Linked DNA regions of Homo sapiens: region 2 is linked to region 1. Evidence: fine-mapped expression QTL. Tissue or cell type: whole blood. Region 1 holds a variant in brackets; the other region holds the start of a gene. All regions are shown on one strand. Distances are between the middles of the regions.

The links. PIP is the estimated chance that this variant, and not a neighbour inherited with it, causes the effect.
Region 2: RANGRF starts here. The variant in region 1 is fine-mapped to the expression of RANGRF in whole blood (INTERVAL, PIP above 0.99).

What each region holds. Positions count from the first base shown.
Region 1 is chr17:8,381,544-8,389,644 of GRCh38, forward strand. It overlaps RPL26 (ribosomal protein L26), which reads right to left and starts at 1,650. Exons shown (of 4, transcript NM_000987.5): 1 at 1,614-1,650; 2 at 600-772. The coding sequence starts at 767. RefSeq lists enhancers at 1,108-1,825, 1,405-1,574, 1,826-2,543 and a silencer at 1,975-2,244. The variant C/T (reference allele first, on the strand shown) is at 4,580.
Region 2 is chr17:8,284,784-8,292,884 of GRCh38, forward strand. It overlaps RANGRF (RAN guanine nucleotide release factor), which reads left to right and starts at 3,887. Exons shown (of 5, transcript NM_016492.5): 1 at 3,887-4,082; 2 at 4,173-4,289; 3 at 4,475-4,631; 4 at 4,720-4,805; 5 at 5,030-5,304. The coding sequence starts at 4,006. The coding sequence ends at 5,153. SLC25A35 (solute carrier family 25 member 35) reads right to left here. Exons shown (of 5, transcript NM_001320870.2): 2 at 7,740-7,805; 3 at 6,550-6,702; 4 at 6,059-6,193; 5 at 5,278-5,895. The coding sequence ends at 5,722. RefSeq lists enhancers at 1-17, 18-518, 3,550-3,779, 4,140-4,259, 4,540-4,609 and a silencer at 4,340-4,389.

The sequences.
Region 1 (8,101 bases):
CAGAAACAAAAAAAAGGTCCTACATGGGAGCATCACTTGAGCCCACAAGAGCCATGACCACGCAACTGCACTCCAGTCTGGGTAAGAGTGAGACCCCATCTCAGCCGGGCGCGGTGGCTCACGCCTGTAATCCCAGCACTTTGGGAGGCTGAGGCGGGCTGATCACCTGACGCCATGAGTTCGAGACCACCCTGCCCAACATGGTGAAACCCCGCCTCTACTAAAAACACAAAAATTAGCCGAGCCGTGGTGGCGGGCGCTTGTAATCCCAGCTACTCGGGAGGCTGAGGCAGGAGAATCGCCTGAACCCGGGAGGCGAAGGTTGCAGTGAGCTGAGATGGCACCACTGCACTCCAGCCTGGGGGGGACAAGAGCGAGACTTCATCTCAAAAAAAAAAAAAAAAAAGATTTTCACCAAATAATACAATTAAAAACTGAAAAGCAGCTTACTTACTGTTTTTTGGTCCCTGGCTCAACTCATCTTGCCACTCTTTGGGAGCAAGAGTCTCAGAAGCATCTTTCTCAGGAATGCAATCTCTCTTCTAAGCTAAGTGCGTAAAATATCCATCAAGACAACGAGAACAAGTAGGGATACACACCTGAACTTCATCATCCTTTCGGATGGGCATGGATCGCACGTTGTACTTCTGTCTCAGCTCTTTGGAAAGAGGGGAAGACATAATCTTCCTTCGAATGTGGGAAGGTGCATTGAAATGCCTTTTGCGATTCTTGCTTCGGTCGGAAGTCACAAAGGGATTAAACTTCATTTTGGCTAAATAAAAAGTTAAAAAGACTCTTAAATGACCAAAATCTCATCCAGCTTCCAAACAAATAACCGCAATGATTTTATCTTGATAGTCTAGAATGATCATAGGCAGTGTCATGTTGTGCAACTTCAACAAAAACTGTTTGATCGGAAGGGCCTATCAACCGAAGCTCGAAACTTTTTATTTTTTGTTTTATTCGGGTGTTTTCTGTATATGTTTACGGACTAAAGACTTTTGCATCAAAAACACTTGTCCTAGTTATAAGACCTTTTAGTTACACTCTCCCAACTCCTCAAGTAGTGCCTGAGGAAATCAAGACTGGACTTACATCTCTGCTGAGCAGACCGACAACGCAATTCTCTTAACTATAACCTCACGTTTTAGAAGGTACAATCAACGTTCATCTTCTACAGGCTTAAGAGTGAATACGTATAGCCCCGCCAAAATGAATAAGGCCCACCAACCCGAACCTGGAAAAGCCTGCACACGTCTCGGGTCCTAAAAGCCTCCCAGTGGGCAAGTGTGGTCTGGAAATTCCGTGAAGACTTTACCGAGAAGTTACTTCGAGACCATTCTCTAGGAAACGACACTACCCAGACTCCAGTCTATTTCCACAGGCTCCCTTCCCTCAGCTCGTTTTCGAGTTCCCAAATCCCCGGTCCCTCCATCCATCTCCGGCCCGGCGGCCCTTGATTTAAGAAAGCAACAGATAAAAAACCATCCCAGTCTCTCCTTCCTGGCTGCTACTCGGCCGACAAGAGACTCTCGGGGTCCCCGCGGTCGGAAGCCACCATGCCCAAGAACGGATGGCTGCTGATTACACCCGCTTGCCCGCCGAATCCTTACCCGCTCCCGCTTCGGTGATGGCCGCAAAAGGGAAGAGAACTACACGCTGCTTCCGGTTCTGTAAGTTTACCAAAGATCTCGCGAGACCTATGTCTCTCGGAGCGAGAGGGGCGCGGAGTTTGAGCGAGGGGAGTAAACTGGGAAATAAATTTATGGCTAGTGTCACCTAGTGGCTAGGAGGGGAACTGCGAGGGATTGCAAAACTCCCCTCCTCCAGGTCCTAGTGTCTCCCTTCCGAGACCCGGGTGCTGCCGCTGAATCCTCTGGGAAGGGTAGTCCCGGGGCTATTGGCTAAGGCTGCTCAGGGTCCAACTGCCCCTGGGGGTGATGAAGGAACGAGCGGCCCCAGGAGACCGCCCAGGAGACCCGCTGGTACCTTCACTCCCAGGTGCCGGGGCGGGGGCCGGCACCCCTTAGCCGGGGAAGCGCAGGCCCTGCTTCTGGCCGCCAGGAGGCGCGGGGACGCCGGCCGGCCGGTCGCCTGGGTCCCTGCACTCACCGTCCCCTCCCGCCCGTGGCGTGGGCGCGGCCAGCGTGCCGGTACTTTAACGAGCTCCACCGCGACGCCGGCCACCGCCCCTGCACCTGGGCGTCTGCTGACCGCACAGCAGGGCCCGCCAGAGATTCAGTTCTGGGTGGTGAGGGGCCTTGCGAGGACCAGGGCCACCGATCGCCGCCTGCCCCCGCGGAAATAGGTCCAAGGCCGCGTTTCCAAGGCGCCCCCAGTGCTGTGGGAGGTGCTGGTCCAGACCACGCTTCGAAGGAGCCAGGCGAGAGGAAGCCTCTCGGTGCGGGGAGCTGCGCGGGTTTCTAAATGCTCGGCCTGTTTGCGTCCAGTTCAGGACCAGACGGAAGCCGTGCGCTCCCTGCAAATGGTTTCTTTTCTTCTTCTTCGTGTGTGTGTGTGTGTGTGTGTGTGTGTGTGTGTGTGTGTGTGTGTGTGTGTGTGTGTGTGTGTGTCTTTTTCTTCTTTTTGAGACAGTTTCGCTCTTGTTGCTCAGGCTGGAGCGCACTGGCACGATCTCCACTCACTGCAACCTCCGCCTCCCGGGTTCTCCTGCCTCAGCCTCCTGAGTAGCTGGGATTACAGGCGCCCGCCACCACGCCCGGCTAATTTTTGTAGTTTTAGTAGAGACGAGGGTTCACCATGTTGGCCAGGCTGGTCTCGAACTCCCGACCTCAGGCAATCCGCCCGCCTCAGCCTCCCAAAGTGCTGGGATTACAGGCGTGAGCCACCGCGCCCGGCCCCTGCAAATGGTTTCTGAGGCAGCGGCAGTGCAGCAGGCACCGGCGCTGAACGGCTTCTGCTGAATGAATGACACGGGTGTCACAGTGACAGAGGACAGGCGTTTCACAAGAATACCGAAGACGTAGTGAGCCTTCTGAGTGTGGGGACGCTCTTCTCTACACTTTACATCATGAATTCTTTTAATCCACAAAATGGCTCTGTTGTTGCTGGTATTATTGTCCCCATTTTACAGATTGGGCAACTCAGCCACAGAGAAATGAGAGGAACTTGGTGCAAGGTTATACAGGACCCATAAGTCACAGCAGAACCCGTGCAGGCTGGCTCCCCGGCCTCTTCTGGGAACTGTATATGGCCCCAATTTGTGGGAACCTCATAGTCAGGACTGCCCAGAGGATGGTCAGCAACGAACATGCGTTTTCATGATTTAAAAATAGTTGTGTTCTTAAATATGCTGTGAAGGAAGTAGCCCTAGATTTTATTCATCACTGAAAAATTCAGCAAGAATTCCTCTGCTGCGACTCTTTTCAACAAATATTTATGAGGCTTCTTTCCTGGGCCAGCCCTGAAACTAGACACTGGCGATGCAAAATAGGTCAAAGTTTGTGCCTTCAGGAAGTTTACTGTCTACAAGAAAAGATAGACAAGGGAATCAACAGCCACGAGACCACAGGAAAAGTGCTCGCTGAGCCAGCTGCCCTTGCTGTCTCTGTGATTCAGGAGCAGAAGGGAGCTCTGGGGTCAGGGAAGACTTCTGAGGTGAGGTCAGCATTGACTGGAATTGGAAGAATGTTAGCATTCGCTCCACAAGGCAGTAGGAATTGCTTGAAGGAAGGCTTGGAGGTGTGAAGCAGCGTGACTCGTGTTTTCCAGGAACCAGGTCCTTGCCGCTGAAGAGAGGCATTTAGACGGGAGCCCAGGGGCTCTAGGGCTGAGCTGAGTGTGATTTGGGTCTGGAAGTCCTAGGGAGCTGCCGAAGGTGCCTGCCTTCCTTCCTTGCCTTGCCTTTCTGGCCTTCACGTTGTCACTCCTTCTCTTTCTTCCTACTGTCCTTACTAGTTTCCCAACTCCCTTCCTGTTCGGGTGTCCCCATCGTCTTCCTGTCTTCCCACCAAGGCCCTCTCTGTTTCCTCAGCCCTCACATCCTCTGCTGACACCCTACCCTCCCAGGCCTTCCTTTCTTTCTCCCTCTGTTCAATACCGAGTCTCAAAATGAAACCTTCAGGCCGGGCATGGTGGCTCACGCCTGTAATCCTAGCACTTTGGGAGGCCGAGGCAGGCAGACTTGAGGTCAGAAGTTAAGGCCAGAAGTTTAAGACCAGCCTGGCCAGCATGGCGAAACCCCATCTCTACTAAAAAAAAAAAAAATTAGCCGGGCGTGGCGGTGTGCACCTGTAATCCCAGCTACTCGGGAGGCTGAGGCAGGAGAATCGCATGAACTTGGGAGGCGGAGCTTGCAGTGAGTGGAGATCATGCCACTGCACTTCAGCCTGGGAGACAGAGCAAGACTCTGTCTCAAAAAAAAAAAAAATTAAACCTTCAGCCCACCATCCATACAGCATGACACTTGATACAATGTGAAAATTTGCAGGGTACAAATTGTCCATACAGATGCAAATGGCCAGTAGCCTAGTTAGAACGTCCCTATCTGTTTTTTTTTGTTTTTTGTTTTTTTTTTGAGGCGGAGTCTCGCTCTGTCACCCAGGCTGGAGTACAGTGG[C/T]GCAATATCTGCTCACTGCAACCTCTGCCTCCTGGGTTCAAGCAATTCTCCTGCCTCAGCCTTCTGAGTAGCTGAGATTACAGGCATGAGCCACTACTCCCGGCTGGCTAATTTTTTTATTTTTGGTAGAGATGGGGTTTCACCACATTGGCCAGGATGGTCTCGAACTCCAGACCTCAAGTGATCTGCCTGCCTCGGCCTCCCAAAGTGCCGGGATTACAGGCGTGAGCTACCACGCCTGGCCGTCCCTTTCTCTCTTTTTTTTTTTTTTGAGACGGAGTCTGGCTCTGTCACCCAGGCTGGAGTGCAGTGGCGCTATCTCGGCTCACTGCAAGCTCTGCCTCCCGGGTTCACGCCATTCTCCTGCCTCAGCCTCCCGAGTAGCTGGGACCACAGGCTCCCGCCACCATGCCCGGCTAATTTCTTTTTGTATTTTTAGTAGAGACGGGGTTTCACCGTGTTAGCCAGGATGGTCTCGATCTCCTGACCTCGTGATCCGCCCGCCTTGGCGTCCCAAAGTGCTGGGATTACAGGCGTGAGCCACCGTGCCCGGCCCCCTTTCTCTTAACGTGTCTGTTGGGTGTCTTGCCTTCACCCTGCAGCCTAGTCTGACTGCACTCTCTCTCCCTCGCTGCCCACATTCCTCTTCCTGGATTTGAAAAAGGTCCCTTTAGGATCATTTTGAAGCCTTCAGACATAGCAAAGCAGGGATTATAGCTAGATTCCACACCCAGAGTTGATTAGACTTAACTTTTTTCTAAACACCAAGCTGTCAGGTTTATTCATTCATTCACTCATTCTCCAAATATTTCTCCAGCTCTTACTGTTTACTAAATTCTGTGTCAGGCACTGGAGATACCAAGATCTATAAGATCTAGCCTCCCCGGAAGGAGCACTTCGTTAAGGAGGAGACAGATGTGACCAGATAAGCATAATCAAGTGTCACCGATGGATGCTTTGTGGGGGATGGGGGGGCGGCGTAGGAGCTGGCAGTTCCCTTGAGCAAGGAAGTGGGCACGTCTTCAGAGGTAACCCTGGAACTATACTGTTTCTGAAAAGCTAGGTAGGAGTTTTCCAGGTAGATGGGGTGGAGTGGGGGTTGGGGTGGGGGGGTGTGTTTCAGGCGGAGTGAGGCTCATAAGCAAAGGCCCAGGCCTGCACCCCACTGCATATTGGGAACTGCAAGTGGTTTGTGCTGAGAATGAGCTGTGGAGTTAATTTATCCCGGTAGGAGGAGGAGTTGTAAGGGTGAGGCAAAGTTGTTTATTGTGTGTCCCTGAAAAAGGACTTTTTTTTTTTTGAGATGGAGTCTCACTCTGTTGCCCAGGTTGAAGTGTAGTGGCACAATCTTGGCTCATTGTAACCTCCACCTCCCGGGTTCAAGCGATCCTCCTGCCTCTGTCTCCTGAGTAGCTGGGATTACAGGTGCACGCCATCATGCCTGGCTAATTTTTGTATTTTTAGTAGAGACAGGGTTTCACCATGTTGGCCAGGCTAGTCTCGAACTCCTGACCTCGTGATCCGCTTGCCTCGGCCTCCCAAAGTGCTGGGATTACAGGCATGAGCCACTGCACCTGGACCCAAAAAGGACATTTATACTGACAAGGAGGTCAAAAGGAGATAGCAGCTGAGTGGTCTTGTGAGTCACACAGGGTTCAGTGAGGGGAGAGGTTATGGAACTGTTTCTGAGGGGCACAGAGGTCTCTAATATGCCTGTCCAGGATCCTGGCAACCCTCGTCAGGGCCCTGCTGGCAATGCTATGGATCCTTAAGCTTGACTGGTAGGCTCAGACTGTGTAAGTGTGTATTACTGTTAAAGGTTATTATGATGGGAAGTGGCTGTGTGTGTGTGTGTGTGTGTGTGTGTGTTGCAGGGGTTGGGGTGCCTCTGGACAAGGGGAGGAAGAGAAAAGCAACTAAGTTTAACCCTAGGCATCCATCCCTCTATCTATCTATCTATCTATCTATCTATCTATCTATCTATCTACTATCTATGTATCTATCTATCTATCTATGTATCTATCTATCTGTCTATCTGTCTATCTCTGTCTGTGTAATGGTATTGTCCTGTAGTGCCCTCACTGCATGATGGTTGCTTAAAACAAAAGATTTTATTTGAAAACAAAGAGGAAAAGAAGAGAAGGGGGAATCAAAATAAGCACATTCAATGACGGGGCCCAGAGAAATGCTCAGGAACTCAGGAACACTGAGAACATTAAATTTTTAAACCTTACTCCTTGGGCGCCTGTTAGCATAAGATGTCACACCTCCAACCAGACAAACCAGCCCCACTAAACCAGTAGTTGACACTCTCGAACCACAGGACAGGTGGTTTGGCAGCTCTTGACTGTTCTTGGGGCAATCTTACTTGGCAACAGGCGTGTACACTGAAGATATCTTTAGCTTCTAATAATTTTTCAATTCAGTTTTTGAATGTTAAATTTACTTGGTTCAAACATCAAAAGGGATAAATTTAAGGTAAAGTGAGGCCGGGCGCAGTGGCTCACGCCTGTAATCCCAGCACTTTGGGAGGTCAAGGTGGGTGGATCAAAAGGTCAGGAGATCAAGACCATCCTGGCTAACACGGTGAGATCCTGTCTCTACTAAAAATACAAAAAAATTAGCTGGGCCTGGTGGCGGGTGCCTGTAGTCCCGGCCACTCGGCAGGCTGAGGCAGGAGAATGGCGTGAACCCTGAAGGCGGAGTTTGCAGTGAGCCGAGATAGCGCCACTGCACTCCAGCCTGGGCGACAGAGCAAGACTCCGTCTCAAAAAAAAAAAAAGGTAAAGTGAAAACTCCCCTTCCCATTCCATCATTTTCTCATTCCTTTCCATGGCTAGTCAGAATTATTAGTGTTTTGTACATCTTCCCAACTTCCTTCCTTCCTTCCTTCCTTCCTTCCTTCCTTCCTTCCTTCCTTCCTTCCTTCCTCCCTCCCTCCCTCCCTCCCTCCCTTCTGCCCTTCTTGTCTTTCTTTTCTTTCTGTCATCAAGGTCTTACTCTGTTGCTCAGGCTGGAGTACACTGGTGCAATCATAGCTCACTGCAGCCTCCTGGGCTCAAGGGACCCTCCCACCTCAACCCCCTGAGTAGCTGGGGCTACAGAGGTGCGCCACCACAAGGTAATTACAATTTTTTTTAAAAAATAGAGATAGGGTCTCACTATGTTGCCCAGGCTGGTCTTGAACTCCTGGCCTCAAGTGATCCTCCCACCTTGGCCTCCCAAAGTGCTGGGCATGAACCACCGTGCCCTGCATTCCCACTTTTTTGATGCATAAGTAAGCAAATAGGAATGTAAATTCTTATTCCCCCCCCTTTCTTTCTTTTTCTTTTTTTTTGAGACAGAGTCTTGCTCTGTCGCCCAGGCTGGAGTGCAACGGTGCGATCTCAGCTCACTGCAACTTCCGCCTCCTGGGTTCAAGCAATTCTCCTGCCTCAGCCTCCCTATTAGCTGGGATTACGGGCACGTACCACCAAGCCCGACTAATTTTTGTATTTTTAGTAGAGACAGGGTTTCACCATG
Region 2 (8,101 bases), 97 kb before region 1:
CAAGCAATCTGCCCACCTAGGCCTCTCAAAGTGCTAGGATTACAGGCGTGAGCCACCGCACCTGGCCCATGCCTGTAATCTCTTTGAGAGTCCAAGGTGGGAGGATGGCTTAAGCCCAGGAGGTTGAGGCTGCAGTGAGCTGTTATCATGCCACTGCACTCCAGCCTGGGTGACAGAATAAGACCCTGTCTCAAAAACACAGAAAAAATAAAAATAATAACATTACACCGAATAGGGGATCATGGGCTTCACAAAACTGCCAAAGCAGTCCACAGTAGAAAAAAGGACGAAAACCCCTGCTTAATAGAAATATTCATTGTCCTAACTCAAAGGAATGCTTGACTTTGGGTGTGGTGTTGTCTCTCTGATCTGAGTCCATCTCTTGGTGCCCTAAAGGGGAGAGTCTCTGGGACTCTTGTCCCCATAGCAAACAACTGCATCAACTGCATGCAGGGCATTGGATAAGGGAATGTCCCAGGTGTAGAGAATCAATCAGTTGCAGGCCTACTTGCAACCAGTGGGCTGACAGCGAGCCATACCCTCACATTCGCCTGAGAAAAGTGGCTGCTGGCCTTCTCTCTACTGAGATTTGTCCCCTGATACTTATCATCCTAGCCACAGCCAGCTGGACCAGAGATCTCCCTTGTGTTTGGGTGGTGGCCTGAGGAGTGGCCAGGCAGGAGAGCCGGCCAAATAGGTACTTTCAGATTGAATAACAACTAATCGACCCAGTTGGATCCTGTCCCTTGGGAAGTTGGAATTTGAACACTTGAGGGAGTCGACAGGTGGCAGGGCCAGCAGAATTGACAGGCACACAAAAAAAAAGGTGAAGGGAGAAGGGGAAGTGGAGCCAAGCGTGGGGATTTGCCAAGTGAGGGTGGCCTTCCACCCCATTCATTCAGAGGAGGTCTGGCTGAGCAGCCCCCAAGAGCCCACAGAATTGTGGAGGGCCAGGGGTCCCCAGCTGCGTAGGGCTCATGGGAGAACATGAGACAGGCCAGACACCCAAAATGAGGAAGTTGGGGGGGCTTTTTTCTCAGCCTTCCTGACCTGGCGTGACCTCCTCTGGGCCCATGTAACAGGCCTCCACACCCCCTTATGCCTGGTGCAGGCACCCTGTTAACTTCTATGTCCCTGTAGGTCCCTTTCCAAGGACTCTACCTGCTTGACTGCTCCCAAAGCAGCCAGAGCCAGTATTGCCCCTGGTGGGGAATGGAGCTGGAGAGCAGGCTGGCAGCAAGGAGGAGAGAGGGACAGAGAGGTCTGTCACTCATTATCCCAGAGAAGCATCATGGGGTGGACTCCTCTGACCTGGCTCCTTTTGTTTCCCATGGCTGGGGTCCTTCTTTCCCTCTAGAGCCTGTAACGCCCCCGCTCTGTCAAATTCCTCATACAGCAAACTTATTCTACTCTCTTTACCCAGAAATAGGTCAGACTCAACTACATCCATATCTGATTTCTTCCTTTGTTTTTTTTTTTTTTTGTATGTTTAGTAGAGACAGGGTTTGACCATGTTGGCCAGGCTGGTCTAGAACTCCTGATCTCAGGTGATCCACCCACCTGGGCCTCCCAAAGTGCTGGGATTACAGGTGTGAGCCACGGCGCCTGGCCCCCCAACAGCATTTTAGAGATGAGGAAATGAGACTCAGAGAGGAGTCTGATGGCTATAGTAAGAAATGAGGAGTCAAGCTCCTTAGTGTGCGCTACAAAAACCCTGCACACCTGACTGTGTTTGCAGCTCCCTGCCACCCATTCCCATCCTACCCTCCCTTGCCAAACAGATACACTTGCTTTCTCCAAAATATGCCCTCTCATCTCCAAGTTTTTGCTCCTGATGTTCCCCCAGCTAGAATACCCCTAGGATGTCCTACTGAATTCTGAGTCAAACTTTAAGACTCAAAGTATGGGCCAGGCATGGTGGCGCATGCCTATAATCCCATCACTTTGGGAGGCCAAGGCAGGAGGATCACTTGAGACCAGAAGTCCGAGACCAGCCTGGGCAACACAGTGAGACTCCATCCCTAAAATAAAACACACACACACACACAAAAATTACCGGAGCATGGTGGTGCATGCCTGTAGTCCCAGCTACTCAGGAGGCTGAGGCAGGAGGATGGCTTGAGCCCACAAGGTTGAGGCTGCAGTGAGCTACGACTGCACCACTACAGTCTAGTCTTGGCAACAGTGAGACCGCCTCTCAAAAAAAAAAACAAAAAAAGACTCAAAGTGTGCTCCACTGTTCCTTCAGTGAGGCATCGGGGGCTGTGTCCTAAATGTCTTTGTATCTCCAGCCCTTCACATTAGGGCCTGGCAAGGTAAGAGACCAATAAATATGTACCCTTTGGCTTCATTTCACTAAGTCATTAGGGTCCAGAGGTATGGTCAGCACTTGGAACCCTGTGGAATGGCCTCAAGATCAGAGTCCTCTTGCCCAATTCTTGGCTGGGAAGTAGGTGACATCTAGAATCCATGAGGGTATGGGTGATCTCCTGGGTTCCAGACATTTGCATTGAGTTTATTCAATCACTTAACAATATATATTAGGTCTGGGCTGGGCACGCTGGCTCACGCCTGTAATAATCCCAGCACTTTGGGAGGCCAAGGCAGGCGGATCATCTGAGGTCGGAAGTTCGAGACTCACCTGACCAACATGGAGAAACTCCATCTCTACTAAAAATACAAAATTAGCTGGGTGTGGTGGTGCATGCCTGTAATCCAGCTACTTGGGAGGTTGGGGCAGGAGAACAGCTTGAACCCAGGAGGCGGAGGTTGCAGTGAGCCAAGATCATGCCATTGCACTCCAGCCTGGGCAACAAGAGTGAAACTCCATCTCAAAAACAAAACAAAACAAAAAAACCCAATATATATCAGGTCTGTTATGCTCTAAACACCGTGCCGGGTGCTGAGGATCAAAGATGAATAGAGAAATGAACTGAAATGATATAGTGAAGTTAAAACTTAAAGAACACAACAAATCTGTAAAAGACAAACAAAAGAGGGTTTAATCTGTGCTTCTGTCCAGGTGTGTGGAGCTGGGGGTGGGGTTGCACCTGCCCGGGAGCATTCCCAAGGCAAATATTTGAGAGGAATTAGATTTCTAATACCCAGGTTGGCTCTCACTTTCAGGAAGATGTGAGACCTGAATCCTAACCTGGACGCATTGTTCCCCTAATTCCCAGCAGCAGATCTATGAATTAGCGGTCTGGGTGGCAGCCCATTCTTCTTTCAGAGGCCCAGAACACCGTGAAACTATGCTTTCCTGACTCAAGAGACCCTACCTAGACGTGGGCCCCTTTGACGAGCACCTGCCCCTCAGGAGGGTCTCAGGCGACCTTCTTGGAAGGTGTGACCACTTGAAAAGGACGAGGAGGCCAGGCGCTGTGGCTCTCGCCTGTAATTCCAGCACTTAGGGAGCCGAGGCGGGAGGATCGCTTGAGTCCAGGAGTTTGAGGCCAGCCTGGGCAAGATTGGGAGACACTCCCCACCCCGCCCCATTTCTACAAGTAATTAAAAATTTAGCCGGGCGTGGTGGCGGGAGCAGGAGCCACTCAAGAGGCTGAGGCAGGAGTATCACTTGAGTCCTGGAGGTGGAGACTGCAGTGAGCGGTGATCGCGCCACTGCATTACAGCCTGGGCGACACAGCGAGACCTGTCAATCAATCAATCAATCAATCAATCAAGAGGAGGCTGGCGGGAGCATGCTCGTGACCACCGGGGGCGACATAGACCCTAACCCTAAGTCCAACCCCAAGGCAGACCCCACCGTCCCGCCAGGCGCACTCCTAAGAGCGCGGCTTCCGGAGCAAAGCCGCTGACCCCCGCCCCCAGGGTCTTGGCGCCGATTGGCCAACGAGAGCGCAGGGCGGAGCCAAATCTTAAAGGATCCGGGAGCTAAGCCAGACCCGGGTGGCGGTGGCAGCTGCGAAACCCAGGGAGCCGATGCCACGTGACCCAATGTGGACTTCTTTTAAACCTTTCTAATGCCCATAACCCAGCCTCAGACCCATGGAGCCCACGAGAGACTGCCCGCTGTTCGGGGGCGCCTTTTCCGCCATCCTCCCCATGGGGGCCATTGACGTAAGGTGAGAAGGCCGGGGCGCCCAGGGGCGGCTGACTGGGTGGGTTGTGGGAAGAGACCGGGGTCAACCAGGGTCTGCCTCGCCTCACTCCAGCGACCTCCGACCGGTCCCGGACAATCAAGAAGTTTTCTGCCATCCCGTGACGGACCAGAGCCTGATAGTGGAACTTCTCGAGCTGCAGGCCCACGTACGGGGCGAAGCGGCTGCGCGGTGAGGGAATGGCCCCCGGCTGGCCAATGGCAGGGGCGGGGTCGGACCAGTGGGCGGGGCCCGCGGCCGACGGTTAATCCGGGCGGTGAGACCACGCACGGGCCGGGAGCCAGGCCTGCAACTTAAAGATGCTCCCGGGGAGGCGACCAGAGATGTCCCTTCCTGACCCCGCTTCCCTACTCCAGGTACCACTTTGAGGATGTTGGTGGCGTGCAGGGGGCTAGGGCTGTCCATGTGGAGTCTGTTCAGCCTCTCAGTTTGGAGAACCTGGCCCTGAGGGGCCGCTGTCAAGAAGCCTGGGTCCTCTCTGGCAAGCAGCAGATAGCTAAGGAAAACCAGCAGGTGAGGGCCCGAGAGTGTGTAATGTCCTGGAAGGGCGGTAGCGGGGACGCAGAGATCCAGGTAAGCATCCTGACTCTGATCCCCTTAGGTAGCAAAGGACGTGACACTTCATCAGGCCTTGCTGAGGCTGCCCCAGTACCAGACTGATCTCTTGCTTACCTTCAATCAGCCCCCGTAAGGAGGAAGGAACGGGCGGGTATCTCATGACTGGGTTCCCAGGAGAATCGGGCTGGGAGGGACAGAACAGGGAGACTCACTGGTGGGATCCTCCAAGGAAGCAGGAGTGGGCCAGAGGTTTGGGGTAACTGATACCCAGGTCCTCTGGGGAACAGGAATTGGCAATTTCCAAACCTCAGGCCTGGATGATGTTCTGTCTCCATCTGTTCCCCCACCCCAAGCCCTGACAACAGGTCATCTCTTGGCCCCGAAAATCTGTCACCTGCACCCTGGAGCCTGGGTGACTTTGAACAGCTGGTGACCAGTCTGACCCTTCACGATCCTAACATCTTTGGTCCCCAGTAAAGGCGCTGAAGCACTGCATGATGTTGCTGAGAACTTGGGGACTCGGTTCTGTGAGGGGGAAAAGAGGTTGAAAAGAGGGTTTCCTCTTATTTCTTCCCTGTGCGTAAACATAAGACAATCCCTCTTCAGAATAAACTTGCTTTATAATCAATATAATCTCTGTGCCTTTGAATCTAACAGGACACCTGGGTCCCAGACGCCTGGGAATTGGGTCTCTCGATTCCCTTTGGTTTTGGAGGGAGGAGTTTAAAACTGTGCATGGGAGCAGGAGGGACTCAAGGGTGGCAGTGGTGAGTGGGAGGAAATACACTTTGGGATGACTCGTTCAGCCCTGAGAGAGGGGTGTGAGTTACCCAGGGAATGGGTAGGGAAGGTTTAAAGCAACACCCAAGGAAAGAAGGGAAACTCATCTCTTGTAGTGATTCAACCCTGAGAACAGATGGGGAGTGGGGTTGGCTGTCCCCCATGGATGGATGAAAGGTCACCTAATCAGTAGTCACCAGGACATAGTGGTGGAGGCACAAGTGGCCAAGGAGTGCTCATTTGGTGGAGACTGGGAAAGCGGCTGTTATTTAGTGTCTGTGTAGTAGAGGGAGCGCAGCTGGTCCCAGAAGAAGAGGGAGAGGATGGTGTGGGGGCCGAGGCGGAAGTAGGAGGCACCTATACCCTTGTACATGCCAAAAATGCCCTCGGTCCGAGCTGTCTGCAGCAGAGCGTCCAGTATCCCCCGGTACATGAGGCCCTGAGAGTGTGTCAGAGAGGGAGGGAGAGCACAGAGAAGGAGTTTGTCAGAGCCCACCAGGGGCAGCACCTCTACAGGCTGCATTTCAGGCTATCCCACCTGCACCCGCAATCTGCCTTCCCCATCCCCTGCTTCCCGCCTGCATCCCAGAGCACTTCCTTACCTTGCCCTGTGCATCTGTGGGCTGGTTGTAGAGCCTTGTGCAGGCCACATCAAAGGGTGCCATGGCCAAGACAACTGCAATGCCACTCATCATGGCAGCCACCAGCGCCAACTTCCAGCTCTGGGGAGGAAAGATCTAAGGGGGTAGAGAGGAAGAGCGTTGTCAACCAGCCAACTATTACACCCCAAGGACAGGACAGTCCCTGCCCTGGGGACACAGATGCTGGTAACTGGGGGAGCTTCCACTGCACCAGTTATAACAGTGCAAAAACAGTGAGAAGGAGGAAGGCCAGGGTACCCTGAAGGCTCAGGTACCCCTTCTGGGAGGAAGTGACAAGAGAACTGTGGGAAGGGTCTAAAGAGTTGACCTCCAAGCCCTCCTGCCACTCCCTCACCTGTGAATGTTGGGCACCATCCCCTCCAGGGCCTAGTGCAGCTTGCCCTCCCCTTCCCCCCTTCCCGAAACAGACCCACCCATTTCCCAGGCAGTACCTCCCACTGGCTCAGGAGGTCCTTGGTGGATGAGAAGGTGCACAGCTGGGTGGAGGAACCGACGATAACTCGGGGCAGGCCGCCCAGAGCCCCACGCCATAACCCCACCAGACCATGTTTCTGGCCAATCTCGGTTAGCGCCTGAAACATGCCCTAGTGTGGGGAAGACCGGGGGTGGGGTTCAGACAGCCCAGCATCAGGGGCTGCCATCCTAACACTGCCAAGGATGGGTCCTTAATAGGAATCTCTTGTCCAGACAACCAGTTCAATGTGGGCTTAGAGCCAGAATGTGGGCCCTTGGTTGTCTAGCCACCCCATTGTTCCTTCCCTGGGCACCCAAGAACTGGGGCGGGATGTATGCAAGTGAGGCCATTCACTGGTCAGGAGAAACAGGGGCAGAAAATTAGAGGAACTGGAGTACATATTGGAAAGAGGCATCAGGCACGGTGGCTCACGCCTGTAATCCTAGCACTTTGGGAGGCCCAGGCGGGTGGATCACCTGAGGTCAGGAGTTTGAGACCAGCTTGGCCAACATGGTGAAACCCCATCTCTATTAAAAATACAAAAATTGCCGGGTGCAGTGGCTCATGCCTGTAATCCCAGCACTTTGGGAGGCCGAGGCGGGCGGATCACAAGTTCAGGAGTTCGAGACCAGCCTGACCAACATGGTGAAACCCCATCTCTACTAAAATTACAAAAATTAGCTGGACGTGGTGGCGCATGGCTGTAATCCCAGCTACTCAAGAGGTTGCAGCAGGAGAATCACTTGAACCCGGGAGGTGGAGGTTGCAGTGAGCCAAGACTGCGCCACTGCACTCCAGCCTGGGCAACAGAGCAAGACTCTGTCTCAACAAAACAAAACAAAACAAAAAAAATTTAGCTGGGTGTGGTGGTGCACGCCTGTAGTCCCAAGCTACTCGGGAGGCTGAGGCAGGAGAATCACTTGAACCCGGGAAGCGGAGGTTGCAGTGAGCCGAGATCGTGCCAATGCACTTCAGCCTGGGCAACAGAGCGAGACTCCATCTAAAAAAAGAGTAAAGAGGGTCTGGGTAGACTCCAGGGGCAAAATGGGACAGAACCGATGGGTTGAGCAGAGCAGTGGCTGGGATTGGATCTGTTGGGTGCAGGCAGAAAGCTAGGGGAAAAGAGAAAGGATGGTCAGGGACTTTGGCAGACTTGGGAACCCTCACCTGATGCTTATACTGGTGCCCTACAGCAATTTCTGAGGCTGCCTGTGCCTGCAGGTGTGTCTTCACCTGGGAACAAGAGAATATCATAGCCTGTGCCCCAGTGGCCATCCTCCTACCTGAGAACCAAATGTCTCACCCCCTCACACTTCCTCTAGGGTGTTCAGCAATGAATAGCCTCTTACTCTGATTATTGTTCTTCCTACTTAACAAACTGGTTAACAAAAAGACTCTGTCTCTAGGCTCCAGCCCCAGGGGGGTGGATCTCCCAGCACTGCAAGACACCCCAACCCCTTCATATCCTCTTTCCCTTGGGGCTAGCAGTCGGGGGTGGAGTGGTTGGAGAATGGCAATATTTCCTAAGG